4 linked regions of the Homo sapiens genome follow. The protein of the gene in region 4 interacts with the protein of the main gene of each other region in a pairwise test. Each region holds a gene or a part of one and is shown on either strand. Other genes may lie near its edges. The genes, in order: CEP63, VWCE, FUCA2 and NUFIP2.

What was found.
Region 1: the proteins of NUFIP2 (region 4) and CEP63 interact in binary tests that used the Homo sapiens proteins (3 or more experiments, as listed by UniProt).
Region 2: the proteins of NUFIP2 (region 4) and VWCE interact in binary tests that used the Homo sapiens proteins (3 or more experiments, as listed by UniProt).
Region 3: the proteins of NUFIP2 (region 4) and FUCA2 interact in binary tests that used the Homo sapiens proteins (3 or more experiments, as listed by UniProt).

Annotation. Positions count from the first base shown.
Region 1 is NC_000003.12:134,559,005-134,566,553, forward strand, and holds the end of CEP63 (centrosomal protein of 63 kDa), read left to right. Parts: intron 1-145; coding exon 146-425; intron 426-2,372; coding exon 2,373-2,531; 3' UTR 2,532-6,027; downstream 6,028-7,549. UniProt on the Homo sapiens protein: Required for normal spindle assembly.
Region 2 is NC_000011.10:61,257,033-61,264,637, reverse strand, and holds the end of VWCE (von Willebrand factor C and EGF domain-containing protein precursor), read left to right. Parts: intron 1-60; coding exon 61-151; intron 152-5,325; coding exon 5,326-5,963; 3' UTR 5,964-6,352; downstream 6,353-7,605.
Region 3 is NC_000006.12:143,507,984-143,516,999, reverse strand, and holds the start of FUCA2 (plasma alpha-L-fucosidase precursor), read left to right. Parts: upstream 1-5,279; 5' UTR 5,280-5,365; coding exon 5,366-5,589; intron 5,590-9,016. UniProt on the Homo sapiens protein: Alpha-L-fucosidase is responsible for hydrolyzing the alpha-1,6-linked fucose joined to the reducing-end N-acetylglucosamine of the carbohydrate moieties of glycoproteins.
Region 4 is NC_000017.11:29,283,802-29,291,875, forward strand, and holds part of NUFIP2 (FMR1-interacting protein NUFIP2), read right to left. Parts: intron 7,234-8,074; exon of another isoform or gene 6,977-7,233; intron 3,916-6,976; coding exon 2,191-3,915; intron 1-2,190. UniProt on the Homo sapiens protein: Binds RNA.

The sequences.
Region 1 (7,549 bases), on a different chromosome or scaffold from region 4:
ATCTCTTTCTGATCTGAGTAGGTTGCTCATTTTGTAAATTGTAGCCTTATTAGTTAGGCTATTAAGCAAATTTCCTACATTTCTGTTGGAAAGAGAAAAGTTGCTACAATTTTTTATTTGTTTTGTTTTCTAATCTACCATCCAGGCCAACCCATGGCCAGCACAGACATGATGGAATAAAGACTGAGCACTACAAAACAGATCTTCATTCTCCAAGAGGACAAGCGTCGGATAGTATAAACCCCATGTCTAGGGTGCTAAGCCCCCTGAGTCCTCAAATCAGCCCTTGCAGCTCCACCAGGTCTTTGACTTCCTACTCTCTATGTAAAACTCATTCTTTGCCTTCAGCGCTAGATACAAATGAAGCCAATTTTTCTGACACTATGTCTGAGAGTATGAATGACCAAGAAGAGTTTATATCTTCGGTATGGAAACTTTCTGATCTTAGTAATTTGTTAGTTTTTTAAGTTTGCTTTGATTTTTTATTTTAAGGGTGAAGAAGGTGATTTTTTTTTCCTTACTGATTCTTTTATCATAAGTACTCTTCATTATTCTTAGGTATCCCTGTCATACAGTTTTTGCTTGTGAAGACACTTTCGGCCAAGACTACTTTTCAAAATGTTCTGAAATATGTTATACGTATTCATTTGTCTTTAACCCTTATTGGAAATTCCCTTCTTGCCCTTTTCAGTGATGCTCAATTTTCTTCTGGAATGGTTAGTTCAAGAACTGTCTCTGGATGCCAAGATAGTCCTGAGGCACAGGCAGTGAAGGAGGAAAAGAGGAACTGCTGGAAAGGAGAAAGGGAGTGTGGAGGGGGAGGAAGGCTGTGCCTCTGATGTGTGCAGAGCATGGCTTGGGGGTCACAGATGGTGGCCCTCAGGGCAGAATGTGCCTTGGACACCATGCCGGTCCCTTGCTCCTTCCATTGCTGGGCAGGCTGCACCATCTTTTTGCCTTCTGCACCAAAGCACTTGCCATGGGCCCTTCATTTCCTGTCACCAGCTGTGGCCATATAGATGTGAAAGTGCAGTATTTCTGACTTATTAATGTGCTACCAAGTCCATGGAAAGGTTTTCTTTTATTTTTCAAAATAAGTCCTCACTTCACTTTCTTCCTAAGTTTAGCAGCAAAATTTTTTTGGCACCAGAACTTTCCCTGGCCTGAACTGATGTGTTAGTATGTATAGACTTTCTCTATTCCACTTAGTGTGAGTATCCATGTGTTTTGCTTCAGAAATATCAGTGTGTTTGGTGATGGGATGTTCCCTCAGACTCCACTGGGGTAATACAGTTGATCCTCATTATTCACAGATTTTGTATTTGTGAATTTGTCTACTCCCTAAACTTTATCTGTAACTCCCAAATCAGTATGCGCAGCACTTCCACAGTAATTCGTGGACATATGCAGAGTGACAAAAAATTTGAGTGACCGACTTGCACAATCCCAGCCAAGGTCGAAGTAGGCAGCACTCTGCCTTGTTGCCCCTGCTTATGCGGAGGTGACCATAGGGTGGAGATGGACGGGACAGCGCAGTGTAGGGAAAGAAGCTCAGCTCCATGCCAGCTGGATAGAGTCTGAATCCCAGCTTCAGCACCAGTTAGTGGGGCAGCCTCAGGAGAGTTACCACTTCTGAACCTCATGTCTCTCATGTGAAATAAAAAATACAGAATCTACCAGAATGATTTGTTCTAGGATTTAGGATTATGCTCTCTGTGTGGGGTATGTGTGTATGTGTGTGTGTGTGTATTTGTTGTATGTGTGTATTTTCCCTGGGCCAAAAATTCTGTGTTTGCTAATTCAGTGTTTTGGGTGACTTTATAGAACACAACTACTGCTATTGTGAATGAGTATTGACTGCATATGGCATATGTTCTATGTTACCTTTCTAAAATCAGAATTCTGAAATATCACTAGCCTCAAGGGTTTCAGATAAGGGACTGTGGACTGAAAATTTGGAGGAGAAAAAATAATTGATTTTAGCTGGCATCTAATTTATTTTTGTTAAATTTTTGTGCTTTAAAATAAAAGTGACATACTTAGGTTTTTAAAGTGAGTTTGAAATAATAGGCATTAACTATGGAAGCATATATAAGTCTAAATTGAAACATTCTTCAGACCAATAACTAATATATGATACTTTACATTGTTACAATTTGGGTCAGAAACGGAGAGATCTGTGTTAATTTTTGCAGAACTTACTGATTTTTGTTCTTTTATTGCTCTTGTCATTAGGATGAAAACCAAAAAAGTATCTTCAGAGGAAAAAAATCACCTTTTAATATTGCTAGTTAGAAAATGTCATGAACAGTGTATCTTAGAAATATAATATTCTACTTATTTACACATGTCAAAATTTGTGTCTCTTCCAGTGTTCCTTGCCTGTATCTCCCCTTGGTTCAATAGCTACCAGATTTTTGGAAGAGGAGGAACTGAGGTCTCATCACATTCTAGAGCGCTTGGATGCCCATATTGAAGAACTAAAAAGAGAGAGTGAAAAGACAGTGAGACAATTCACAGCCTTAAAGTAGCCTCTTAAAAAAATCACTATCTTGGAAATAAAAATAAACACCAAAGAGTTACTGTCATCTGAAGTAGCAGCTCTTTAAAAACATGAAGAGATAAAATTATAAAAATGATACATCTAAAGCAGTGGTGAAGAAAGCTGAAAAACTGATACTTTTGATAGGCATTTTCTCTGCACTGGTTTGTTTAAAGGACTTCTTCCAGCAATAAGTTGAAAGAATAAACCACTTTGCTAGACTTTTTTCTCATACGAATATTTATTATCATAAAGTGATACTTACCTTGCTGACTTAAATGTGAATAGCTATGTACTAATTGAAATAAGGATTTTATGATACATGTTGAAAATAAAGTAACTGCAGGAACTTTCTTTAGGGGAAATGTGTAGAAGCATGGATTTAGGGGTCAAACATACCTGGATCGATAGACTGGTTTTGCCACTTACCAGCCAACGGGGCTTGTTATTTACTGGGCTGGTAGCCCCTCCTAGCCAAGGGGCTGGTAGTGTGTAAAGTCAGGCTGGTAGTGAATAAGGGGGGGGTGTGCTAAAGAACCTTATCAAGCAGTCCTCTCTTGCTCAACACTCATGCAGAGGAGAGAGGCAGGGAGGGCAAGGGACTGGCTGTCATGCACGGTGCCCATGGAATATCCATTGGAAATAAATGTTCATCGTCTGCACTGCTGAGGACAAGTTTAGATGGGAGACAAAGATCTGGATGTTGATGTGCCGCAGGCATTTGAAACGATGGGAGTTGATAAGATCCACCAGGGAGGCTGTGGAGAGAGAGAGGAGCAGGAGGCTGGGTTTGGGGCCCTGAAAGATGCCAGCATCTGAGGATCACAGGAAATAGATCTAGCAAAGGAACTAGAATGTGCAGTTACAGATGAGAAAGGTCAGTGTAGTGTACTTGCCAGCTCAAGGGTGTGGCCTCTGTGAACCCTCTTTCTGTAGTGGATCTTTCCCATCAGCGTAAAACATCCTGTTATTTCCCCTTTTTAAATAAAACCTCAGTTTTTTTTAATGCCTCTCTTTTACTGCTCTGTATGTTTGCTTCCCTTCACCCAAACACTTCTGGAAAGAGTTGTCTGCAGTGACTCTTTCCAGTTCCTCACCCCGCCCCACCGTAGTTCTCTTCCTAACCCTCTCCAACACCACTTCCATCCCCAGACTGCTTTCTTGCTCTTGAGTTCACCAGTGACCTAATCAGTGTCTGAGCATCATTCAGCACAGTTGGACTCTCTCTTGGCTTCTGTGACCTGGAACTTCTGGTTTCCTCTCTACCTCATCCTCCACTCCATCTCATGGCTTTTCCTCTTCTAACCTCTAAGTCAGAGGGCCCCCTAGAGCTCTGTCATGGGTTTTCTCCCTCAGCATTCTCTTCCCTAGAAGTTTCCATTCCATTCTCAAGCTCTTAATACCACCTATAGGCCAGTGACCCTTACATTTATTACTAATCTTGACCTCTCCCCAGAGCTGCTGTCTTAGATACCTAGCTGCTTATGCGATGTCTTCACTTGGATATCTGACAAACATCTTGTTTCCAAGAGAGAACTCTTTATTCTCCCTCTTGCTAAGATTCCATATCAGGACATAGCATTATGTTTGCCAGTTCCTAGGAGTTACTTATAATTCCTTCCTTACCCACATCCGCATATCCAGTCATTTGGGAGGTCCTGTCATTTCTTCCCCCAGAATCTTATCTCAGACCCAACCGTTTCCCTCCTGCACTTCTACCACCTGATCCAGACTACTTCTCTCTCACCCTGATTCTGGCAGTAGCCTCCTAACTGATAGTACTCACACCAGTAATTCAGGGAGCTTCTGGAGTTATCCTTTAGAAATGTAAATGAAACAGTGTCACCACTGCTTCCCTTCAGACTCTTCCAAGGCTTCTCTTTTTTTTTTTATTGAGACAGAGTCTCACTCTGTCGCCCAAGCTGCAGTACAGTGGCAGGATCTCGGCTCTCTGCAACCTCCACCTCCCGGGCTCAAGTGATTCTCCTGCCTTAGCTTCCCGAGTAGCTGGGATTACAGGCGCATGCCACCAGGCCCAGCTAATTTTTGTATTTTTAGTAGGAACAGGGTTTCACCATGTTGGTCAGGCTGATCTCGAACTCCTGACCTCAAGTGATCCACCCGCCTGAGCTTCCCAAAGTGCTGGGTTATAAGCGTGAGCCACTGCACCCAGCCCCAAGGCTTCTTACTGCACTCAGAATAAAATCCAAATGAATTAGTATAGCCTACAGAGTGTCAATAATCTGGGCCTAATCACCCATTGCATCATCCTTTACTGTGCTCCACCCATGCTGGCGTCCTTTCTGTTTATTGAGTGCAGCAAGCTTTAACCTGTTCGGGTCTTTCATTTGCAGTTTACCCTGAATATTCCCTTTCTCTTACCTCACCTTTGATTGGCGTTTTCCCCCTTGCAGACCTGCACTCTGGCATCCTCTCCTGAGCAAGCCTTCTTTGATTGCTGCCTCCCAAACCTGTTTCTCCCCATTTCTCTAGCTCATTGGCCTGTGTTACTTGCTTCATAGTGCTCACTACTATCTGAAATCATTTCATTACTTGATTTATGTTTGTACTGTCTATTTCTGTCTTTAGAATTAAAACTCCTTGAGGGCAAGGACTTTGCTTCTCTGGTTCATGGTGGGATCCTCATCACCCAGCACAAGCCCAACACTTAGGAGAGGCTCAGCTAGTTTGAACCAATGGAAAATGCCATTCCTGAGGTGCACCACATCGTTTCTTTTGTGTTGGTGTGCATGCTGTCCTTCAGTTTGTCTCCTCTTCCCACACCCTGTCATGTGCTCCTAAAACTCCCCCTTTACTTGGCTACTTTATCTGGCTTGGCAAAGCTTTCCCATATCCCCTGACCCATGTCAGGGAACGTTTCTCCTCATTGCTGTCATGGCACCCTGTGTGTGGCTCTGACCAGACTTTGCTATCCGCTTTGATTTCTGTCTTTCAGGGGCTAAGTCCTGCCTACATCCTCAGTCAGCATGCTGCCTAACACATAACAGATCCTAAGCAAATATTGGGTGGATGAAAATCACTACCATTCAAGGCTTCATTGTATTTATCAGTAAAACTGAAATAATATCTAATGGGGTCGAGAAGATTTACTGAAAATATATATTTGAAAGGGCTTTGCAGTTTTAAGTACTGTACCTATGTGCATTGCTGTTACATTCAGGAGATTTCTGAGTTTTAGACAGTCCCAAGCTTCAGCTTAAAATCTGTAGACTGCAGCCCGTTTCTGAAACGTTTGTACTACGTGTTGACTAGGAGGAACAATGACAGACTCTGTAGTCACCGGAAATACTTAAGGAATCATGAGGTACTATGTATTTCCTTAAATTATACTGTTTTTTAAAGCTGAAGTATCTAATAGTTAATGGGTTGTCCAAATTTGTCAGAACATTTGACTGTAATTTAATGTCTCACCATTTTTCAAAAAGATATATTAATACCAAATATTAAAATGTGTCAAGACTAAATCTGAGTTAGTGTCTTAACACACATTTTCCAAAATCTGTCCGTGATCAGGGTACCCAAATGAGATGAAAAGATTAGGGATTTGTAGTCTACATCTGGTGTTTACAGATAATGTTTTATTGGGCAAGTCATCTCATTCTTCTTGTCCTGGATTCCCATGAATTTTCATCTGGATTCCTACGCAGATTTTAGCTGAAGAGGGCAAAGTTGACTTCCCACTGTGGGCTGGACATTACCTTCCCTTGCAGACTCATTTGATCTCAACAAGTGTAGAAAAAATACTACAACACTCTGTTTCTGTGACATCTGCTTAAACCCAAACAATTCTTACCTTCTCTCTCTTACATACACATAACACCTGGTAAACTGTGGGTGATGATTTTCTGTTTGCAAAACACTCGAGTCCAGTACCTAAAAGTTGCAGATAAGAAAGATAATTATAAAATAAGCTCTATGGCATGAGAACATACGTTAAGCAAACAGTTGTCATGAACAGCACTGAAATGTAGAAAAAGTTAGAAATGTGTCAGCTTGTCCCAAAACAGTTTGAAATAGTATAAATGCATCAAAAAGTAACAAACAGAATCGGGGCAGAGGGAAAATGAGGGCTGTAAACATTGATTCACTAATGAATCTAGTTGTCCAGTCCAGTTGCTAGAGGAAGGCAGCCAAGTTACCTCTGAGCTTCAGAGGGGGAAAAGCAGAGGAGAAAACATTTACCTAAAAGTTTTATGGTGCCCATAAGATAAAAAAAAAAAAAAATCATAGACTTAAGAAAAGCACAGATTTTTTTTGTGTGTTTGAATAAGCGTTTTGTAAAGTATGTGAGTATCCAGAAGAGAAGTCCAACATTTTCATAACTGGTAATAATAATCTGCACAGCTCCCCCCACAGTATGCTTCACTGTGGGTTGATGGCATAAGGCTGACATCCAAATTCAGAGGAAACTGTTCTGAGAGGGCCACAAACATGATTGCGTAAAGCTCTCATGGCCTGAAAAGGGAAAATTTAGAGGGATGATAGACTGCTTTAAACCAATCTTTTGTAAAAGCTATTTCTCCGCAGTGCAATTTTGATAATTCAGACATACAATTCACATCTTTTTTTTTTTCCCTCTCTGTGAGGAACTAGAATTTGGGAATTTTATGTTGCCCATTAAGACCAGGTTCAATTATTTGACAATCATCCAGTCAGAAGAACTTTTGCACTCCTCTTACAAAAAGAACGTAAGGCAGTAGTTGATAGGGGAAGGTCTAAAACTCCTTGATATTAAATGCAAAACATTTATTAATGTTAATAATAGTAATATAATAATATTAAATGCAAAAAATGTGCATTGTGCATTTTTCTGGGGAGAAGGTTCATAATTTTCATTAGAATCTTGAAGGTGTCTGTGAATCAAAAAGAGATTAAAAACCATAGCTTTAGGGACTAGAGTTGTCCCAGAATGGTATCCCATTTCCTGGGGAGAGACATAAAATTGGAGGAGTCCAACCTCTCCCTTCTGGGGCTGAATTTTAAAGT
Region 2 (7,605 bases), on a different chromosome or scaffold from region 4:
ACTGCCCAGGGCAGGCAAGATGCTCTGGGCTTCCTCATGGGGTTCCTTCTGCTTCCCCAGCTGGGAGAGGTGAGCTGTGAGAAGGTTCCCTGCCAGCGGGCCTGTGCCGACCCTGCCCTGCTTCCTGGGGACTGCTGCTCTTCCTGTCCAGGTAAGTGGGTCTCTGGGTCCTGGAGTTTCTCCGCCATCTTCTTCCATTTTACTTTTCTTCCCCGGTACATAGAACTTGTAAAGGGCTGGATAAGAGAAAGCCATGTTCAGAGAGGGAACACGGCTCGCGCAAGGTTGTACAGCTGTGCTGTGGCCTGCTGACCCTCATCCCGTGCTCATGATGCCACACACCATGATGTCTGTTTATTTGCACTCCCTTTTTCTTCTTCTTCTGCTTTTTTTTTTTTTTTTTTTTTTTTTTGAGACTGAGTCTCCCTCTGTCACCCAGGCTGGAGTGCAATGGCGCTATCTCACCTCACTGCAAGCTCCGCCTCCCGGGTTCACGCCATTCTCCTGCCTCAGCCTCCGGAGTAGCTGGGACTACAGGTGCCTGCCACTACGCCTGGCTAATTTTTTTGTATTTTTAGTAGAGATGGGGTTTCACCGTGTTAGCCAGGATGGTCTCGATCTCCTCACCTCGTGATCCGCCCGCCTCAGCCTCCCAAAGTGCTGGGATTACAGGCGTGAGCCACTGCGCCCGGCCTGCACTCCCTTTTTCTTCTTTATCCCCTTTCTTAACCTCTTCCTATGCTTTCTTCTTTATTTTAAATTACAACATGGGAACTGAGTCCGTTTTGCAGAAGAGTAATCTCTAATATGTGTTGAGCACCCACGGTGTGCCGGGACACCTCATGTGTCTACACCCCTGCAATACTCTTGTCATCCTCCTGTGCCAGGTGAGAAAACAGGCCCAGGCAGGTGAAGTGCTGTGCTCAAGATCACATAGCTGATTGGTAGTAGAGCCAGGGTTTCAGACTGGAGTCGATGCTTTTAGATAGGACAGTGGATTGATTCCCAAGAACTGACGCCACTGAACTCCAGCCTGGGCCACAGAGAGACACTGTCTCTAAACAACACAAAACACAACACAACACATATTTCTCCTGTCTAGCTGAGATTGTGTACCCTTTGACAATCATCTCCCCATTCCCCTCGCCCCTGCCAGCCTTCGTAACCACGATTCTATTCTCTGCTTCTTTGGCTTCAACCTTTTTAGATTCCACATAAAACTGAGATTTTGCAATAGTTGTCTTTGTGTGTCTGGCTTATTTCGCTTAGCATAATGTCCTCCAGTTTCATCCATGTTGTTGCAAATGACAGAATTTCCTTTTTTTTTTTTTTTTGAGGATTCTCACTCTGTCACCCAGGCTGGAGTGCAGTGGCGCGATCTCAGCTCACTGCAACCTTTGCCTCCCAGGTTCAAGTGGTTCTCTTGCCTCAGCCTCCTGAGTAGCTGGGATTATAGGCGCACACCACCATGCCCGGCTAATTTTTGTATTTTTAGTAGAGACAAGGTTTCGCCATGTTCGTCAGGCTGTTCTCGAACTTCTGACCTCAAGTGATCCACCCACCTCGGCCTCCCAAGGCACTGGGATTACAGGCGTGAGCCTGTAATTTCCTTCTTTTAAAAGGCTAAATAGTATTCCATTCTGGATAAAGAAATGTGGTATATGCACACAATGAAGTACTATTGATGGATGCTTAGGTTGGTTCCATAGCTTGGCTATTGTGAATAGTGTCACAGTGAACACAGGACTGCAGCTCTCTTCCCCAAACTGACTTTAAATCTTTTGGATAAATACTCAGCAGTGGGATTGCTGGATCTATTTTATGTTTTTTAAACTTCTAGGAAGACAGGGAATTTTTTTCACTGATGGTGGCCTGAATTCCCTTTTTTATAAAATATTTGTTTAACTCCTTTGACCTTTTGAAGAGTATGTTCTGTTTTCGGGGGCAGCTCTTCAGATCTGTGGATGATGAGCTTTTAGGGCGGGTGGCGCCAGGAATATCCATTGAGCCTTCAAATCCATCATGTTGGGGACATTATAGATTGTACTTCATTGTAACCACCACAAACCTCTCTGCATGCTAGTGGATATTAGTCCCCTGACTGTCTAGAGACTGATTGCTAGCTAATGTGCCAGGCAGCATACTGAGCATTTTATACCTTATTTAAATGTATTACCTCATTTAAATGTTCATGGAGTGTTCCAGCGTGGCTGCTATGTTATCTCCATTTTGCAGGTGGGGAAATGGAGGCTCAAAGAAGTTAAGTTTCTAGTTGGTGTGTAAGACTTAAGCCTAGGTCTCTCTTATTTCCTATCCTGTCCTCTTTCCCACCGTGCCCTCCTACCTCCACCTGGGGAAACTGAGACCCAAAGAGGTGACCTCCAGGTCTGGCGTGGTGGCTCACGCCTGTAATCCCAGCACTTTGGGAGGCTGATGTGGGTGGATCGCCTGAGGCCAGGAGTTTGAGACCAGCCTGTCCAACATGGTGAAACCCTGTCTCTACTAAAAATAGAAAAATTAGCCGGGCATGTTGGTGCACACCTGTAATCTCAGCTATTTGGGAGGCTGAGGCAGGAGAATTGCTTGAACCTGGGAGATGGAGGTTGCAGTGAGCTGAGACTGCGCCCTGCCCTCCAGCCTGGGCAACAGAGCAAGACTCTGTCTCAAACAAAAACAAAAACCAAGAGGTAACCTCCAGAGCCCAGCTCCTTCTCCTGAAGCACACTATGTTTACCACCTACCTCTTATTAACAAGAGCTCCCTTTAAGGAAAAACAACTTTTTATTGAAGTAGAATATGAATTGCTTTCTTTTGATGATTTTTTTTTTTTTTTGAGACAGGGTCTCACTCTGTTGCCCAGGCTGGAGTGCAGTGGTGCGATCACAGCTCACTGCAGCCTCGACCCCTGGGCTCAAGCAATCCTCCTACTTCAGTCTCACAGGTAGCTGGGACTACAGGTGCATGCCACCCTGCCTGGCTAATTTTTTGTTTCTATTTTTGTTTTATTTCCAAGCCCATGAAGTGATAAACACTTGGTTAATTTTTTTACTTTTTTTTTTTTAGAGACAAGGTCTTGCTATGTTGCCCAGGCTGGTCCCAACTCCTGGACTCAAGCAATCGTCCCGCCTTGGCCTCCCAAACTGTTGAGATTACAGGCATGAGCCACTGAGCCCAGCCTCTTTTGATGATTTTTTTAAAAGTATAACAGCTTTCTAAAGATAAAGTTCATATGTCATACAATTCACACATTTAAAGTGTATGATTCAGTCATTTTAAGCATATTTTTAGAGTTACGCAACCATCTATTAATATGAATAGTTGATTTTTAAAATATAATCATTCCAGTTTTTTATGTGCTTGACAACGTCTGATTTTTCCTTGATCATACCTTCGATACTCTTTCTTCTTTTTTTTTTTTGAGATGGAGTCTCTCTCTGTTGTCCAGGCTGGAGTGCAGTGGCATGATCTTGGCTCACTGCAACCTCCACCTCCCGGTTTCCAGCAACTCTCCTGCCTCAGCCTACCAAGTGGCTGGACTACAGGCACCACCATACCTTGCTAATTTTTGTATTTTTAGTAGAGATGGAGTTTCACCATGTTGGCCAGGATGGTCTCAAGCTCCTGACCTCAAGTGATCTGTCCACCATGGCCTCCCAAAATGCTGGGATTATGGGCATGAGCCACTGCGCCTGGGCCGATACTTTTTCTTTTTTTGCTTCTTCACTCTTCATTTTCTTTTTGCTGAGCTTCTTCCTTCTTTCACAGATGATTCCTGACTTTCTGGTGGTTTATCTTAATGATTTTTTGACTTTACAATGATGTGAAACCATCAAAATTTTGCTGTATTTTGTATTTTGAATTTTGATCTTTTCCTGGGTTATCAATATGTGACACATGGATATTCAGCACTTTATTAAAAAATAGGGATTTACTTAGATGATTTTGCCCAACTGTGGGCCAGTATAAGGGTTCTGAACACGTGTAAGGTCAGCCAGGGTAAGCTGTGGTGTTCAGGAAGTGAGCTGTATTAAATGCATTTTTGCTGGGCACCGTGGATCACACTTATAACCCCGGCACTTTGGGAGGCTAAGGCAGGAGGATCACTTGAGCTCAGGAGTTTGAGACCAGCCTGGGTAACAAAGTAGGATCCTGTCTCTACAAAAATAAAATAGAACAGAACAGAACAGAACAGAACAGAATGCCAGGTGTGGTAGCATGTGACTGTGGCCCCAGCAAGTAGGACAGCCGAGATGGGAGGATCGCTTGAGCCCAGGAGGTTGAGGGTACAGTGAGCCATGTTTGCACCACTGCACTCCAGCCTGGACAAGTGAGTGAGAACCTGTCCCCCCCACCCCAAAAAAAAGCCTTTTTTTAAATTTTGGTGAAACGGAGTCCTGCTCTGTCTCCCAGGCTGGAGTGCAGTGGCACGATCTCAGCTCACTGCAACCTCTGCCACCTGGGTTCAAGTGATTCTCGCGCCTCAGCCTCCCGAGTAGCTGGGACTACAGGCACGCGCCACCACGTCCGGTTAAGTTTTGTATTTTTAGTAGAGATGGGGTTTCACCATGTTGACCAGGCTGGTTTTGAACTCCTGACCTCAGGTGATCCGCCGCCTCGGCTTCTCAAAGTGTTGGGATTACAGGCGTGAGCCACTGCGCTTGGTCAGAAATGCATTTTTGATTTACAGGTTTATTGGGACGTGACCCCATCGTAAGTCAAGGAGCATCTGTGTTTATTTTCTCCTTGTGTACTGAGCCTTTATGATATGCCAGGCCCTAGGCTGAGACTTTTTAAAAAATTCTTCAAAGAAACTATTTTTTAGAGCAGTTTGATGATCATGGCAAAATTGAGTGGAAAGTACAGAGAGTTCCCATATGCCTCAGACTCCACATGATACAGCGTTGCCCCCTATTAGCACCCCATACCAGCGTGGCATGTTTGTTATAATCGGTGATCCTACACTGACACTGACATGTCATTGACATCCAATGTCTATAGTTCACATTGAGGTTTAGGCTGAGACTCTCCGTGCACCCTTTCATTCACACTCAGTCCTTACTGCTGTGCCCATTTTACAGATGAGGAAACAGAGGCCCAGGAGAGTTGCATGCCTTGCGTGAGGTCACACAGCTAACTGCCTGCCTCCCTCCGTTCATGGCTCCTTCAGTCTTCCCTTCCTGGAGGCAGGAGCTGGCTGGTCCTCACCAGGTGTGCTGAGGCCCCTCTGAGGACAGAGCTTGGGTGTCCCTGGTATACCTTGTCCCAGAGCCACCTTGGCCACTGGAGAGAGCCATTGTGCATCTCGTTTCACCCTCGTCTCTCTAGATTCCCTGTCTCCTCTGGAAGAAAAGCAGGGGCTCTCCCCTCACGGAAATGTGGCATTCAGCAAAGCTGGTCGGAGCCTGCATGGAGACACTGAGGCCCCTGTCAACTGTAGCTCCTGTCCTGGGCCCCCGACAGCATCACCCTCGAGGCCGGTGCTTCATCTCCTCCAGCTCCTTTTAAGAACGAACTTGATGAAAACACAGACTTTACCTACAAGCCCGGCAGGAGCTCATGGTCCACACTCACTCGCTTTGGGGCTGACAGCCACTTTCCCAGGGGAGCCTGGGGCCTCCCCTCGACTCTCACCAGGGCCTTCGACCCCTCCAGGAGCCCCCACTCTACCTCTAGCTTCCCCAGGGGCTCCTCAGCCACCTCCTGTGACTCCAGAGCGCTCGTTCTCAGCCTCTGGGGCCCAGATAGTGTCCAGGTGGCCTCCTCTGCCTGGCACCCTCCTGACGGAAGCTTCAGCACTTTCCATGATGGACCCCAGCCCCTCGAAGACCCCCATCACCCTCCTCGGGCCTCGCGTGCTTTCTCCCACCACCTCTAGACTCTCCACAGCCCTTGCAGCCACCACCCACCCTGGCCCCCAGCAGCCCCCAGTGGGGGCTTCTCGGGGGGAAGAGTCCACCATGTAAGGAGGTCACTGTGTCCGGGAGACTCTGGAGAGAGGACCTCTGCCAGTGGCCCAGGGTGTGTGCAGGGCAGCTCCAAGGATGAACCTGGTGGGGATGCCTGGGCTCCCTCCTGCAGGGGCCCTGGTGAGGATGGAAGACCCCCAAGGCTGGATGTAACCTTGTTCCCAAGAAGTGTTTGGAATGTGCTGTAAGAATGGAGGAAGTCGTTTCCACTGTCAGCATCCTCCCTGGACCGCGTGGCTGGCTCATCTTTTGAGAAGGGTTGGGACTGCCAAGTTCTCCTGGAGGAAGAGTTGCGTCCGGCTGGGATTCCACTCACTGGGACTGTACCGCCAGGTGTCATGCGTCTCTCTGAGGTTTCCTGATTAAAGGTTGTCTCGGTTTCCCCATGCTGCACTGCTCATTCACCGCTTACCTGTGGGAAGGTGGGAAACGTGACCCCAAGCCCACAGGTGGTAAGTGAGCATCCACCTTTACCCCACTGCTGGGGAGAAAAGCTGGCACCAAATTGTGACTGGGCTGGGGAAGGGTCTCCTGTAAGCACTTGGCGGCCTTTTATATTGGGAGACTTCTTTTTATTTTTTTCCCCAAGATCATGATTTTCTTTTCTGTTTTCTTTTTTCTTTTTTTCACTTTTATTTTAAGTTCAGGGGTACATGTGCAGGTTTATTATATAGTTAAACTCGTGTCACAGGGGTTTGTCATACAGATTATATTATTTCATCACCCAGGGATTAAGCTTAGTACCCATTAGTTATTTTTCCTAAGTCTCTCCCTCTACCCTCCCTCCACCCTTCCATAGACCCCAGTGTGTGCTTTTCGTGTCTATGTGTCCATGTGTTCTCATCATTTAGCTCCCACTTACAAATGAGAACATGCGGTATTTGGTTTTCTCTTCCTGCGTAACTTTGCTAAGGATGATGGCCTCCAGCTCCATTCATGTTCCTGCAAAGGACATTATCTCATTCTTTTTTATGGCTGCATAGTATGTACACCATGGAATACCATACAGACACTGGGGGGCTTCCACAGTGAGAAGGGAAAAGATGATGGAGAGGACTTGCTTCTGGGAAGGAACCTCTGAGACGAAATGACAGACCAGCAGTTTCTTTTTTGAGATGGAGTTTCGCTCTTGTTGCCCAGGCTAGAGTGCAATGGCAAGGTCTTGGCTCACTGCAACCTCTGCCTCCTGGGTTCAAGCGGCTCTCCTGCCTCAGCCTCCTGAGTATCTGGGATTACAGGTGCCCGCCACCACACCTGACTAATTTTTTGTATTTTTAGTAGAGTTGGGGTTTCACCATGTTGGCTAGGCTGGTCTCGAACTCCTGACCTCAGGTGATCTGCCCACCTTGGGCTCCCAGAGTGCTGGGATGACAGGCCTGAGCCACCGCGCCGGGCCGGGCCAGCAGTTTCTTAAGACGTGTTTTCAGCAGGAACACCTGTGGGCAGCGGGGAAGGAGCAGGGAGGGAGAGTTGGGGCTGCTGGGCCTTCTCGAAGCCTCAGCCAGCCCCCTCTGGGAGCTCTGGGGTTAGGCTGGCCCTTCGGAGCTGTCCTGAGCTGGAGCTACGGGGCAGGGCTTTCTGCCTCATATTGACCAGAGAGCTGCTATCAACCACCTTCCCAGCAGCTGGGAGACTGATC
Region 3 (9,016 bases), on a different chromosome or scaffold from region 4:
CTTTCTTTCTTTTTTCTTTCCTTCTTTCCTTCTCCTTCCTTCCTTCCTTCCTTCCTTCTCTCTCTCTCTCTCTCTTTCTTTTCCTTCCTTCTTTTCTTTTCTTTCTTTTTTTCTTTCATCTCCTTTCTCCCTCTTGCCCAGCCCTATCTCAGTTCTGTCAGTTCCTTCTTTCTTTTTTTGCTTCCTCTTCCTCTTGAGGACCTGACCTCTTCCCTCCCACTTCTAACCAGGGCTGTGAAAACTCCGCCTTCTCTTCCAACTGGTGCAGCCCAGGGGACACTGTCTCCCTCAGCCATAAGGGCCACTGGAAAGGAGACTCAATGTGTGACTGAGACCTCATCTCCCTGAATTAGGCCTCCGTGCACAGCCACTCATTAGATCATTCATTTTTCCCGGAAGACATTGGGAAGGACGGAAGTAGAAGGCAAATGTGTCATGTGTTCTGATGCTTAGCTGCATACTAGGATCATTAAATTACCTGCCACTGACAACCCTGGTGCAGAGAAAAAGTGGCAATTTGTTCTTGTTTCTAGTCACCCTACTTGCCTCAGCAGACAGCATGCTCCTGTCCCCCATGCACACACTGGGTGGTTGGTGATCAAATTTAATTATTCTACCTGCATTAAACATAGTCAAATCTTGTCAATTAAACAGCATCTTCAGCAAATATGTAGGCTGTTCTTTGGGTAACAACGCTCAATATTGCAGATGCCTCCCCCTCCCCTGCTTCTCTCTAAGGTGGCATGGAGTAGGGGCGGGGTTCTCCAGCTTCTGGGAAGGAACACGCCGTCCCTGCCTTCTCTGGTCCTGGAGTGCTGACACCCGTTCTTTCACTGTTCCCAGATGAAGCCTGAAGCTGCTCTAATTCAAGATCTGGTCTGTATCGGGCTCCTGCCCCCACCACTCAGTTTCCACAGACAGGCAAGAGTCCTCTGAGGAATGGCTGTGAACCCCAGGTCCTTGGCACAGGAGGCCCTGCCACAGAGAACCACTCAGGACAGATTTCCAGTTAGGTTCTTGGCTACTTCTGGGTCCTGTTTGTGTCACTCGAATATCAAGGTCACCCCAGGAAAGGTAAAAAGCAGCCTCTCCATCTGTCTAACATGGCTGTACCTTGCTACACTTGCCAGTTAGCCTGAGTCCTAATCAGGACATTTCTGTCCTGATTCTCATTTAGGACTTCAGGTTAAATGGGAATCAGGACAAAATCTCTGCTTTCTGTAGGCTCCCCTGAATTGATCTAACACACACATGGTAATACTGGTCCACACGTAGACGAGGCTTAACATGTACTTCTCATGATTTAATTCTCACAACACCCCTAGGAGGGAGATGCACGATTATCACTCACATTTAATAGGTGAAGAAACTGAGGCACAGAGGTTGAACGCCTTCCCCAGGATTACACAGCCCTATGGCAGAGGCTGGCGTGGGGCCACAGCCTGGCAGCTCTCCCCTCTCTGCTGACACCCCGGGGCCTCCTCCCTTTATTCCTCTCTGCTTCTCTTCCCTGCCCCCTGGCCTGAAAAAGGCGGGTTTTCTTTTATTTCCCCCATGCCTGCTCTTCTACCGTGAAGCTGGGATATTTACCAAATAAAGACTGGTTTGGGTTCAGTTCCTTTTGAACCTTTTCTTCTGCATGTCCAGAGAGAGACTGCATTGATGCCAGCTGCCAGGCAAATGTTTCACTTCTTCCACTGTCCACTTCAGAAGAATTCTGGGGACTGCCAAGACTGGCTGGTGGCAGTCATCCAACTCCCATATGGAGATCTATCCAGAATGTGTCCTCGAGAGCCTCGCTCAGATATCAGCTCCACCTCGGCAGCTAATCTTATCCCTGTGGACACACATGGCAAGACTGCTTCCTCTGGCAGCAGCAAGGAATTTGGCTAGGGCTGGCCTCTCACCATCTCCCGCCTGGGCACCCTGAGTATCAGCAGCTGCCCAACATGCGGCTGCTGGCCGTGATGGTTCCAGAAGGGAGGCACGCCCTTCTGTCTTCATCTTGTACCCCAAGTAACCTCAGACAAACAGGATCAGAGTTGACAGTGTTCCCCATCAAGGCCACAAGCCCTTCAAATGCCTTATACATGAGCCATGTGTACCTGCAGAACCCAGGGTTTCACTCAGATTTCTGGATCCCCTATCAAAACCTTTAAATACACAGTTTAAGCCTTATGAGGTGTGATTCTATTGCTCAGTTAGCAGTAGCTTTAAGTGCAAAGACTAGCTTTGTAAGGCATTACAAACGTATAAAATGTGAATGGAATCTACAGCAGGCAGGTCTTTCCCTAAAGGACCATGTTCTAAACGACTTCATAGATTTATTTCTTTCAGTCATTTAACAAATATTTTTAAGTAGAATCTCTTCTTCCTCTTCACTTTCAGATAATACTATTTACTATTCCTTTCAAATCCTATAGCAATGGTTCCCAACCTGGTATATTAGGATTCTTATGTGTCCTGAAGGGCACTAAGGGAGGTCTTTAATATATTTTCAGTATTTCTTACAGAAAATAGACTTTTATGATAAGGTTGTACTTACCAGTTAAAAACATTTCTTTGCCTTCAAGTGAAATGACAAATGACCCAAGTGGCATCCATACAGATCTGATTACCACTCTTTAACTGAAATATATGGAAGTGTAAATAATTCATAACATGATAAAAGGGCTTTGGAAGATGGGCGTTTCTGCTATGTGGTGTTCACATGGGGAAAGGATGCCCACTTATGAGAGGACAGGGTCCTGCTGCCGCTGCATTGTCACCACAGTCATGTCTACTCTCCCTATGGCAGTTCACAGTATCATTGTCACTGTGAATATTGTCTTTTGCACTTATTACACAAACTTCTGATTAGAGAGGATGTCAAGGCATAGTGGCTGAGAAGCCCATATTTTTGTTCAAGTGTGCCCCAGGGTTCAGTGGCCACTGAGGCCCTAGATCATTCTGGGTTCCACAAACTCAATAATAAATATTTGTCAGCCCAGGCACCGTGGCTCATGCCTGTAATCCCAGCACTTTGAGAGGCTGAGGCAGGAGGATGACTTGAGATCAGGGGTTCAAAACCAGCCTTGCCAACATGGTGAAAATACAAAAGTTAGCTGGAGGTTGGGGTCTGTAATCCCAGCTACTCGGGAGGCTGAGACACGATAATTGCTTGAATCCCCGGGGGTGGAGGTGGCAGTGAGTCAACACTGTGCCACTGCACTCCAGCCTGGGCAACAGAACCAGACTCTGTCTCAAATAAAAAAAAATTGTCATCTTTATCACAAACTGGAGCTATTGCAATTGGATTCGTTGAGCCCTTTCCTCTAGAACACCCTCACTGTAAAAAAACAAAACAAAATTGGGGACTCTTACGGTGGAGCTGTGGCCCCGGGGGGCCATCTGGCATGTCATGGAGAGGAAAAATGCCCCTACACCTGCAGTGACAGCGCCCTCTGCTGCTCCCATCTCTCTGCAGAGATGGGTTGGGATAATGCAGGCAACAGCCACTTAGTGTCAAGTTCTTCACTCAATAATTAGAACCCCAGTTCACTGGAGAGCTTCAACAAACATTTTGAGTGCTGCTTTTCTGCTGTAATTGTAGGCACTACAGAAAAGAAGGTCATTATGAATGCCCTCAAAAAGCTCACAGTCTGATGGGAAATCAGACCTGTACCACCTAGCTACTAGAGGATGCGTGAAATCCTATGTGTGCTTGGAAGGAGGTGTTATGAAGCAGATCAGGGAAAGTACAACATTCTGGGAGGGAAGGGTGGTGGCAGAAAGCTTCACAAAAGAAGCAGCATTTGAATTGGCTCATTGAAGGGTAATGATTTCATGGGGGCAGAAGCAGTTGAGGATTCTGGCTTTACTTTGAAAACACTTACGAGGTGGAGGAGAGGCTGGGCTTGGTGGCTCATGCCTGTAATTCTAGCACTTTGGGAGGCCAAGGCGGGCAGATCACCTGAGGTCAAGAGTTTGAGACCAGCTTGTCCAACATGGTGAAACCCTGTCTCTACTAAAAAAGAAAAGAAAAATACAAAAATTAGTCTGGCACAGTGGCATGTGCCTGTAGTCCCAGCTACTCTGGAGGCTGAGGCAGGAGAATCCTTGAACCCGGGAGGCAGAGGCTGCAGTGAGCCTAGATCATGTTACTGCACTCAAGCCTGGGCGAGAGAGCGAGACTCTGTCTCAAAAACAAACAAACAAACAAACAAACAAACAAACAAACAAACCAAACAAGAGGTGGAGGTGATAAGCTTCCCAAATATCCTTTTGATTAATCTTTCCAAGTTGCTGGCCTTTTTTCCCAAGCTTGCAGGTTTCTTAAACATTCATTCCACTGGTTTCACCTGTCTCAGATCATCTCCTTGTTCAATGCAGTGGTTCTCAGGAAAGTTTGGACCACCAATCAGAAACATCACAATTTTGTTTTCTTTCTTTTTTTTTTTTTTTTTGAGATGGAGTCTCACTCTGTAGCCCAGGCTGGAGTGCAGTGGCACCGTCTCTGCTCACTGTAACTGCCTCCCGGGTTCAAGCGATTCTCCTGCCTCAGCCTCCCGAGTAACTGGGACTACAGGCGTCCGCCACCACGTCCCGCTAATTTTTTGTATTTTTAGTAGGGACGGGGTTTCACCGTGTTAGTCAGGATGGTCTCGATCTTCTGACCTTGTGATCCGCCCGCCTCGGCCTCCCAAAGTGTTGGGATTACAGGAGTGAGCCACCGCGCCCGGCCCAACATCAGAACATCCTAGAAGTAGGAACTGGGTAGAAACGCAAATTCTTGGGCCCCAACCTAACTGCTGAATCTGAAGCTCTTGGAATTTCATCTGATACAAATTCAAGGTTGACAACCACGGTTCTAACATGCAGGATCTTGGGAGCTGATACAGAGGCCGAGAAGGATCTAGGTTGCTTTCCATGTTCCATCATGGCGAGACCCGGCTGAAGTTCCTGCCTTGACCTTCTCGTGCACGCTTCGGACGTGTGGAGCAGCCACCAGGGTGGGCTGGGGGCATTGTCTTCTTGGGCAGTTTCTTGGTCAGGGTCGTGTCTGCTTGAGGGCAGAGGCGCTGGCCACAAGGCCCTGACTCAGACTCATATTTTCCCCTCAAGAGGACAGAGCCTTAGCAAAGCCGTCCCAGCTGGCTTTGGGGTAATGCTGGCCTTAGTTATGCTGAGCGATGCAGCCCTCCTGAGGTCATTCGGAACGCCCGGGAGAGTGGCCACTCCCGCCCCAGAGGGGGAAGGGTGGCCGGTTTCCAAGTCCGACTTGGTCAGGTGACCGCGGCGCGGCATACTCAGCGGCAGAGACGGAAGAACAGCGCTCCCGAGGCCGCGGGAGCCTGCAGAGAGGACAGCCGGCCTGCGCCGGGACATGCGGCCCCAGGAGCTCCCCAGGCTCGCGTTCCCGTTGCTGCTGTTGCTGTTGCTGCTGCTGCCGCCGCCGCCGTGCCCTGCCCACAGCGCCACGCGCTTCGACCCCACCTGGGAGTCCCTGGACGCCCGCCAGCTGCCCGCGTGGTTTGACCAGGCCAAGTTCGGCATCTTCATCCACTGGGGAGTGTTTTCCGTGCCCAGCTTCGGTAGCGAGTGGTTCTGGTGAGTGCGCTCCCTTTTGTCTCGTCTGCCGCGCTTTTGTCCCCACCCGCAGCCTCCAGCCACCACCCAGCGGGCCTGGTTCGCCGCCTGGTGCTGCCTGCACCCTCGTCGGTTTCACCTCCCACTGCGTTACCCGCGTTTCGCACTTCCGGGTGTCGAATATGTGGTTTCCTGCCTAAGTGCTTCTGCTGGATGAACAGGGAATTTTTCTTCCGTGTGACTGTAAGAGTTTTCAGATACTCCTGACTCCTCAGCTTCTTCATAGTTGCGCATATTAAGCTGTAGTTATGACACTACAACATCGAGCTACTACAGACATTCATCAGTTTGTGCAGGGGCATCACACGAGCGGTGACTCAGGCACAATGGCCTATGGTTGCTCTGCTGCTACCTGCCAATTTACAGTCGTTCTGCCATGAAGTTATGGTTAAAACATAGTCATGAGTATGTGAAACGACTGTTCATTGAACACCATTGGCTACTTAATGTTAACATGTTACCCATGTGTGGCTCTAGGAACTTTTTAAAGAGGTTCTAGAATGGTACTCTTAACACAACCCAGTTATCATACTGCCGTATGAAAGGTGCTACACAAAAATCTGTGCGTTAGATTTTACCTTGAGATCTATGTGAAAATGTGCATGTAATTTCTTAAACTGTTGCACATGTCTTTTCTGACTAAATGCTACAAGTATTAAGTCCTTCAAAACAGAAATATTTTGTGTGCATATATAGAAACATACACATAATATATTCTTTTTTTTTTTTTTTTGAGACATAGTCTCATTCTGTCACCCAGGCTGGAGTGCAGTGGCACCATCTCGGCTCACTGCAACCTTCGCCGCCCGGGTTCAAACGATTCTCGCGCCTTAGCCTCCTGAGTAGCTGGGACTACAGGCGCACGCCACCATGCCTGGCCAATTTTTTTGTATTTTTTAGTAGAAACGGGGTTTTGCCATGTTAGCCAGGCTGGTCTTGAACTCCTGACCTCAGGTGATCCGCGGTGGCTCATACCTGTAATTCCAGGACTTTGGGACACATAATATATTCTTAAGTAAAAGAACGGAATCATTAAACAGTATTTATTTGAATCAACTATATACTACATAAATAGTATACATCCAAATTAACATACTATATTTAGTAGACACAATACAGAGTATGAACTATATATTATATTAACATTACATAGTATACATGGTACCATGCTCTACTCTAGGGGTAGAAAAATTACACCTCCATTCTGTTAGGGTCTCTGCTGGGTCCAAGAATTAAATTGACATTGTGTGACTAAATTATGTGGGGAGACTTAAATAATAAATTTTAGCAAGTTCTGTACAGTATTCTACTTCTTGTCTTTGAAGCTTAGGATGTTGCCTTTCCTTCTAGTACAGAGTGCCTTTCATACTGGAATTTCATCTTCTCTCCTAAGAAACAGCACAAAGGGCAAAGTGCTCTTCATGCACCTGCTATTTTTCGAGTTTCTTTACCTTTAAAAATGTGCCAAAATAGCATATTTTAACCCTTTCATGACAAAGAAATTGACTACCTGCAACCAGTAACCTTTCTTATTGGTAGGTCAATTGATGTAAAAAATAAAACTGGATAAGCTATGGAGAATTATTCATATTTTAAATAATTCACCTTCTAAAACAGAGACTCTTTATTCTTATGCCAAAACATAGCTACTTCAAAAAGATGTTACAAATCTTTATTTGCATGTTTTGGGCTGTAAGGAATCTTGAGCTTGTTTTGGAAATATTTTAGATTAGTGTGGTACATAATTAACAACTTTCTTCCCCCTAAATTGTATCTTATATTATCATTTTGTTCAACCATGAAGATTAGGTAAAGATATATTGGTGCCAAAGAGGATTTGACATTTTTGACTGAGACTAGTACTATGCCAAAATAAAACAGCTAGTTTTGAGTCATTTTATTCTTTGCTATGAATAACTTCATTTTCTACAGATAAACCCATGGTTATTTTGACCTAGAATAATAAAGATACTTCTCATACTAAACAAAATAGAGAACAGATTCCTGATGATCTGAAAATGCATTAACCCTGTGGAAGATTCTTTAATTACCTGTGATTTCCCTTTGTATCCTCTGCTCCTCACTCTCAATTTGACTTTCGGGGAATCAACAGTATAGATGAGTATATGTGACTGTTTTAAATGTCTATTAAAAACCAAATATAAATGATAGACCTTTACCATAAATGCCTCTTTTCATCTCTCAGCATGAAATTCAAGTCTAGACTGTAGGGGACAGTGCAGGTTCAAATTAGATGATGCTAGGAGAAATTCCTTATTCTTGTTCAACTTTCTGAATGTCCCAGTTTCTCTTTTGCAGTTCAATTTAAAATGTAATGCCCGTAGTCCCAGATACTCAGGAGGGTGAGGTGGGACGATCGCTTGAGCCCAGGAGTTCAAGGCTGTGGTGTGGTATGATCATGACACTGCACTCCAAACTGGGTAATGGAGCAAGACCCTGTCTCAACCAATCAATTAATCAATAATAAATAAATAAATAATAAAAATGCTTCAAGGATTTTAAACCCAACTAAAAGGTATAATGATAGGGGCTTGTTATCTCACATAACAGGAAATTTAGAGTAGTCGGTTCATTGATGAAATCAAAGACACGGGCTCTTTCTTTCATCCTCAGCCTGGGGACTTGTCCCTTCATGGTCACAGGATGGCAGCCAGGCACCATAACTTCACACAACCCTGCCCAAAGGCAGGAAGGCCAGTGTCTCTTTTCATTAGGAGGGAAACCATTTCCACAGTCCCCAAAGTTGGCTTTCCCTCAAGTTCCCTTGGCCAGCATGGATCTCACATCCCTGTCGCAGCTGTAGTGGAAGCTGGGAAATTACGTAAATACGACTTTTGGGCAGGCAAACAGCATGCCTGCCGCATAGTATGCCCTTCAATTATTTCTTCTTAGCAGAGTCTCCTGATCGTCTTGGGAAATATAGTGCTGATTATGGATTTGCTTATCCTGTAGAAATACTCATATGAAAGGAATGGTGATAGAAAAAGCAGGAGGTGGGTCAAAAATGGGGGTTGCATCTATTTCATGAGGATAGTTACTGCTGTGTTTATCTAAAATGTGTAGATGTGCTTTTCCTCATGAAGTCTTGCTTACGCAGTTTAGGGTCAATATACCATTGCTTAGAATGAATGCGTATAGCAAGTAATTGTTGAAGGTTGAGTCCATTTATTAAAATAACAGCATCTTTTTAATTTTACTTTTGCCTCCCTTTCTGTCCTGTGCCTCCAAAGTGTTCTCTACTACTGAATATAATAGATGCATATTATGTTTTAGGCATGTAGTCTTCCTTTTAGAAGCCCTAATCACTTATGTTACAAGGGACAATGTGTAAAGACATATACTACATGTTGTGATTTAAAAGTGAAGA
Region 4 (8,074 bases):
TGCCCTAACATTGCTAAAAACAACCAACTCCTGTATTTACCTTCAAAGAGCAGAGCTGGAGAATAAGTGAAATCAGGTAAATGTTATCTGTGAGGATTCCTAAACTTCCATTAAGCAATTCTACTACTTCCATTTTTAAGGAAGTAAAATGATATTAAAAGGACATCTATTTATTATACTCAATGTCTTCCAGCTTGCAGATAAGGAAACGTATGCAGACTAGGAAATTTGCTTAGAAGTCACAAATCACTTTGTTATTCATCCCTGAGGCAGTATTTCTTCCAGAGAGAATATGGTAATTACCCAATTCCCACAATCTGGTATGGTCCCCTTTCCCTGCAATTGTAAGTCACTGCCTAAATGAGCCACTGTTAAAATGGGAATGTGCACTATGTATTAAGTGTGTACATGCATGCATGGAGCATACATTTCTGTTAGAGAAAGGAGGAAGAGGTAGGAAAGATGGGAAGACTGAAACCCACTGTTCTCAAAAGCAAAAGGATATAAACATCATCGTTAAACCTCATTATTTGCTCTAAGGATTTAGATTACAGTTATGCCATACAGCGAATTTTTCTTTAAGACACAAACAAACCACATTCTAAGAAAGTGATTAACATGAGGCCTGGCACGGTGGCTCACACCTGTAATCCCAGCACTTTGGGAGACCCAGGTGGGTGGATCACCTGAGGTCAGGAGTTTGAGACCAGCCTGGCCAACACGGTGAAACCTCATCTCTACTAAAAATATAAAAATTAGCCAGGCGTGGTGGTGGGCACCTGTAATCCCAGCTACGTGGGAGGCTGAGGCAGGAGAATCACTTGAACCCGGGAGGCGGAGGTTGCAGTGAGTCAAGATTGCGCCACTGCACTCCAGCCTGGGTGACAAGAGTAAGACTCCATCTCAAAAAAAAAAAAAAAAAAAAAGAAAAAAAAGAAAAGAAAGTTATTAGCGTGAAACTTGAAAGATACCTGGTTCCCTTTAAACTTGGGCTTTAGGGCTATGAAAAGGAGAATCCCAAGAGCCTGGTCTCAACTATGCTAATCATACTTGACACTGTGATTTGTCTAACTTATTTTCCAGTTACAAACTGGCATCCATTACTCCAAGACTTATCAGTCTCCTCTTCAAAAACAGTGCTTCTACTCATTTTAATCAAATTAGAACTATTAAATGAGCTCACTATTAAAGACGCATATGATATAAAAAGCAAAGGAGAGGCTGGGCACGGTGGCTCACACCTGTAATCACAGCACTTTGGGAAGCAGAGGCGGGCGGATCACGAGGTCAGAAGTTTGAGATCAGCCTGGCCAACACGGGGAAACCCGTGTCTACTGAAAATACAAAAATTAGCTGGGCGTGGTGGCGCATGGCTGTAATCCCAGCTACTCGGGAGGCTGAGGCAGGAGAATCACCTGAACCCAAGAGGCGGAGGTTGCAGTGAGCCAAGATCACACCACTGCACTCCAGCCTGGGTGAGAGAGTGAGACTCTGTCTCAAAAACAAATAAGCAAATGGGTGTGGTGGCTCACACCTGTAATCCCAGCACTTTGGGAGGCCGTGGGTGGATCACAAGGTCAAGAGGTCAAGACCATCCTGGCCAACATGGTGAAACCCCGTCTCTACTAAAAATACAAAAATTAGCCGGGCATGGTGGTGCGTGCCTGTAATCTCAGCTACTCAGGAGGCTGAGGCAGGAGAATCACTTGAACCTGGGAGGTGGAGGTTGCAGTGGGCCGGGATTACGCCACTGCACTCCAGCCTGGCAAGAGAGTGAGACTCCATCTCAAAGAAAAAAAACACAAAACAAAACAAAAAAGCAAAGACAAAAAAGCCACGGAAGGAGAACATATGTTCAATAAAATTTTTTTTCAAGCACTCAGTCAAGAGAAAATATAACATCAATACCTTTAAGCAAGTTCTCCTCACTTCTGTTCTTTGAACCAGGTAGGTCAATTATGTTTGTATTTTTAAAAATCCTTTTAAGTTGGAAAAGTGAACATTTCTTCTAAATTTTAATCATACTAGTTCCAAGGACCCTGAATTAGTTTGACACCAGCTGCTTATCCACATTGTCATTCTCTTAAAATACTCTTAATATGAACAACTAATTCTCTTAAAATTCTCTTAATATAAACAATATACTAAATTGGCCAATAAAAATCTTTGTATAGGAAACAAATGAGTTACCTTTAGTGTGATATACAATAGCAGCCCTCAGGTCAAAAGAACCCCAGCTATCATTCCTTTCTAGGCCTCTCTGGTATCTCTGTTCTTTGGCAGAGCCTAACAAAGTGTTCGTAGGAGAGGCCAGAGGATTTTGACTTTCTATCTCGTAGTCCTTTGAGAGAAACACTAAAGCACCTTGACTACTGGTGTCTGCTTTCTGCAGGTCACCTATATGACTGGGTTCCAAGGATAAGGCTCCACTCTCACTAGTAGTCCCAGATTTTAGAATGCTACCCAGAACTTGAGGACTAGTCCGTTTCTCCAGCTCGTAAGCCTTGGGAAACACAGGATGCTCAGTTCCTGAGGGAATTATTTCAGCACCCTGTGAAACCAAAGTAGCAGGATATTCTCCTTGAAATGTCACCTCCATCACTTTATGCTCTGATGACTTCCCAGTAACAGTCTCAGGGCCAGCACTGGGCTCATTTATAAATGATAAACCCCACTGATTCTGGAAGATATCCCCCAGGTTTTGCTGATCTGTCTGAGAGGGCAGATCCACTTGTGCTGTGCTCAACAGCATAGTTTGCATATTTGAAGGATAGATAAAAAGGCTAGTCTTAATTTGTTCAACAGCTGCTGAAGTTAGACTCATGTCCTGGAGAACTGAATCTGTCCCAGAAGAGATGGGTGTTAGAGTATTAGCAGCAGTAGTTAGCAGTGGCTGACCCCCTGGAGGATAAACATTTCCATCAGTCCCTGCTAAAACAGGCCCATTAGAAAAGTTGGCAGAAGTAACAGATTTCAGCGCTGACATAGGGACCTGGGATAAGCGACTTGATGATTGGGTCTGAGTTTCCCCGGTAGATGATGAAGATGATGAAGATGAAGTTGGTGACACAGAAGAGTTCTGTATAGTTTTGTTGAGGTTTTCCTTAACTTTGCTTGCATAACTTATTTTAGGAACTATTTTAGCACTGCTATTGTCCACTGGAAAAACTGGGGGTGGTTTAAATAGGGTCCACGAGTCCTCTTTGGAGGCAACAGCTGAAGCATGCTTTCCTTTGGGCCGATCATCAAACTTTTTGCTGCTCACACCAGGTTTACTATCTGAGCTTTTCCGAAGCATATCACCCACAGCAGGTTTTCCTCGACTTGTTCCTCCAGGCCCAGTTTCATACTTCCAAATGGGCTTCGAACCATCTACTCGATTTCCCTTTTGTTCACTATAGTCAGGCTTGAAAGTTTCAAGTCCCTGTTTTAAGGTTGGGACACTGGTCTCTTGTTGCATTATTTTGTCCTGCACTATATTAAGGTTTTCACAACCCTTGGCACTATTGCGCCTAGCTTTCCTTTTTTTAGGAGTTGTATATCCGCTCTCAGATCCACTACCATCATTATCTGCTCCTTTACCCATATAACCATTAGTAATATAACCAGAATTATTTGTTACCACACCATTTGGAATTGGTATAGTATCAGACTTATCTACAGACTGATTCTCTCCAGATTTATTTTCATAAGACTTCCCATTCTTTTTGTCCATACTGTTTTTCTGAATGAAATTCTTGGTTTTAATTCCTGCTTTCCCAAAGGTGTTGGCCTTTACAGTCTGCTTCAGGCTAGTGTCTACAACTTGCTGGTTGCCATTGAGGACCCTGGAAATAGGGTTGGTGGCTTCATCAGAACTCAGGTTCTTTAAAGATATTTCTCTTTCTCCAGCATTACCGTTTAGTTCACCATAGCCTAGGGGAGGGGAAAAAAAGGATTAAAAAAAAAAATCACAACATGTAAATTACACTAATACCTAACATTTAAGAACTATTTACTGTATGCTAGACACTATGCTATGAGCTGTAGCTTTATATTATTTCACATCTCTATGAGAAGACACCTGTCAGCCCCATTTTACAGACTAGGAAATGCAACCTACTGCTAAGCAAAGCAAGAGGTAGAACTCAGCGAAGATTCAAACCAAAGTCTGAGGCCAGAGAAGACAAGACCTCTTAAGCAGTATGCCAAATACCTCTCATCTAACAGAATCAATCTACCCATCACTCTCACAAGGCTGTTATAAAATTTTCTTTTTTCAAGACGGAGTCTCACTCTGTCGCCCAGGCTGGAGTGCAGTGGCGCTATCTCCGCTCACTGTAAGCTCCACCTCCCGGGCTCACGCCATTCTCCTGCCTCAGCCTCCAGAGTAGCTGGGACTACAGGCGCCCACCACCACGCTCGGCTAATTCTTTTTGTATTTTTAGTAGAGACAGGATTTCACCATGTTAGCCAGGATGGTCTCGATCTCCTGACCTTGTGATCCGCCCGTCTCGGCCTCCCGAAGTGCTAGGATTACAGGCGTGAGCCACACGCCCGGCCTAAAATTTTCTTTACAATTCAGAGCAGAGATGCCCTCTGGGCAAAAATCAAGTTTTATTGAAACAGTAATTATTACAAGGAAATTAAAGACTTCATTTCTACAAAACCATAAATAGCTGGTAGTCACTATCAGCAGTTTCCAAGGCATCTATCAGACAAATATCTAACACTTGTCAACTTTTTCTAAAGTATTCTTAAATTTCATTTTGACATTTCCCAGATATTGGATATTGTTAATACGTGAAACCAAAATATCTACGTACCAATGTTTCCAACCTTTATAAAACATACTTTCTTCATTTTACATTTAGATAAAAAGACTTTAAGAGAGATGAAGTAAATTGCCCAAGTCAAAGTGACAGAACTGGAAATCTGACCGCCAGTCTATCTGCAATCCATGGTTTCCTATCACTATGTAATACTGCCTTGACTCAAAAGATGCAATGAGAAAATATTTACTAACAAAACAACAATAAAAAGAATCCAATTTTTTAGTGTTATGGTATTCAGGTTTAATTAAAAGTCTTCAACTGCCAGTGGATCATGTCTGTAAACATAGCACTTTGGGAGGGCCAAGGCAGGCAGACTGCTGGAGTTCAAGACCAGCCTGGGCAACATGGAGAAACCCTGTCTCTACTACAAATACAAAAATTAGCTGGGCGTGGGGCATGTGCCTATACTCCCAGCTGGGGGAGCTGAGGGAGGAGGATAGCTTGAACCCAGGAGGTCGAGGCTGCAGTGAACATGCACTGAGATGGCACAACTGCCTTCTAGCTTGAGTGACAAAGTGAGACCCTCTTTCAAGAAGAAAAGAAAAAAAAACCTTCAACTACCATAAAAAGTCAATTCTATTATAGGTGATTCAAATAGTTTTCCACTGTAACAAAATGGTGCTATTAGTTATCTACCTTTTTATGAAATGTTCATAAAAGCATCTTGAGGTCAAGTCATTAGAAACAGATATACAGGCCGGGTGCAGTGGCTAATGCCTATAATCCCAGCACTTTGGGAGGCCAAGGTGGGTGGATCATTTGAGGTCAGGAGTTCAGGACCAGCCTGACCAACATGGTGAAACCCCGTCTCTACTAAAAATACAAAATTGGCCAGGCATGGTGGTGCACGCCTGTAATCCCAGCTACTTGGGAGGCTGAGGCAGGAGAATGGCTTGAATCCGGGAGGCAGAGGTTGCAGTGAGCCCACATTGGGCCACTGCACCCCAGCCTGGGCAACAAGAGCAAAATTCCACTTCCAAAAAAAAGAAAAAAGAAAGATACACAATAGAAGGACACTCCACACACATTTAAGGCAGCAGGAAGTGAGGAGTCTAATAGGAATACTGCCATTTTTATAAGTCTGAGAACCATTGTTCCAAAATAAATTAATGGAGAAGTCTATTAGATTCACAACAGGACTTACTCATTCTACATTAGAAAAAAAAGTACAAATACTAAAACTGAACAAATAAAGGCATTTTCTTCTCCTGTATTAAAGTAACCCAAGAAAACATACTCAAGGCATAATCATTCCTAAAACAGACTGGCACAAAACTTGTACCACGAGAGAATACATCTTATAACAGTTATTTTTTTTCTTTTTTTGAGACAGATTCTCGCTCTGTGGCCCAGGTTGAAGTGCAGTGATGTGATCCCAGCTCACCACAACCTCCGCCTCCCAGATTCTCCTGACTCAGCCTCCAGAGTAGCTGGGATTACAGGCATGCACCACGATGCCCAGTTCCGCCACGTTGGCCTGGCTGGTTTCGAACTCCTGACCTCAAGTGATCTGCCCGCCTGGGCCTCCCAAAGTGCTGGGATTACAGGTGAGAGCCACCACACCGGCCTCTTAGATTTCTTAGAACTCTTAAGAGTTCTTAGATTCCACAGGGTTACATTTTTAAAAATTTTTTGGCTGCTGGAAAAGCTATGATAGCCAATCAAATCAAATTTTTGGTGGCACAATTTTAACTATGAAACAGCAAGAAAGAGATTATTGCTTAGGATGTTTTCTAAAAGCTTTTTTCCTCAGAAAAATCCCAGGCACAGTGGCTCACATCTGTAATCCCAGCACTTTAGGATCCCAGGCAGGTGGATCACTTGAGGTCAGGAGTTTGAGACCAGTCCGGCCAACATGGTGAAGTCCTATCTCTACTAAAAAAAAGAAAAAAAAAATCAGCTGGGCATGGTAGCATATGCCTGTAATCCCAGCTGAGACAGGAGATTCGCTTGAATCCAGGAGGCAGAGGTTGCAGTGAGCCGAGATCATGCCACTGCACTGCACTCCAGCCTGGGCCACAGAGTAAGGCTGTGTCTCAAAAAAAAAAAAAAGAAAGAAAGAAAGAAAGAAAGAAAAGCATAAAGTTCCTAAATAAAGGCTCTTCTCATCATTTTTAACAGATATAACTTTATCTCCTTACCTAACTCTGGATAAGACCTACCTGTATCATTTAATATGCTAACAGGTTAAACAAAGGTTTGTATCCTTGGGCCCATTAGTCACAACTTTTCAGATTTCAATTAAAGATGAGCAATCTGAAATAGCAAAAAATCCAATCTCCAAACTGAGCTGAACCAAAGCTAACAAGAATAATTCTTCCTAAGATTACTAGTATGTAGCGACTCAGATACTGGAAATCACCAAACAATGAAAAAACGGCTTAGAAGCCACTGTGCTCCCGCCCGCAAGTTTTAATAACAAAAAAAAAAAAAAAAAAGAAAAGAAAATCTTGTTTAACTACATAAAGTTTTTCTCATGACAACCTTGTGATATGTATGAAGTATGCTGGAAAGAAATTTTCTTTTTAAATAGTAGATATTTAAGAAAAATGTAAACATTATAGAATAAATTTAAGAAATTAAAGGATTCCTAGCGCTTTATTTAGGGCTGCTTATACTAACCCTACTTCCAAAAGACTCAGCAAAACTTGAGTCCTGATACATCTAGCTTTTCAATTAGAAACAAATTACTCAACACATTTGGCCTTCTCTTGCGCCCTCTTCTGGATTAAAAAAAACTGTTCCTCTTTAGGTTTGTGAGCAATGGATTACCAAAGCCTACCTCAACATGTTACAGATAAATTTCAAAAATATTGTAATGTTTTCTTAGTTATTAGCATTATGCATGTCAAAGCAACAGTACTGTGACCAAATCATACACTCGCCCCAAACTGTTTACATTCTGTCAAAACTGCTAATTCCAGTTTCCTCCTCTTTATCCACCCCTTCCAAGACAAGAAATATTTGGAGGAATACCACCTTGAATGGTTCAGCGGTTGCTTCCACATGTAGAGAGAAGTCTGGCAAGAGTATATTAACCTGACCGATGAGATACAATTTTTCAATCTCAACAGTAATATTGCCTTATGCAGCCATAATATGGTAGTATTTTCTCATCTTTTGAACAAGATCTAATGCTAAAAAATCTAGTTATATAGTCCCTAACAGTTTTTAAACTGTTCCAAATCTTTAGGATTAAAACACCTAACTCGTGCGTATGTGTTCACTTCTATTGCATACTATCGGGTCCCTACGAAGTC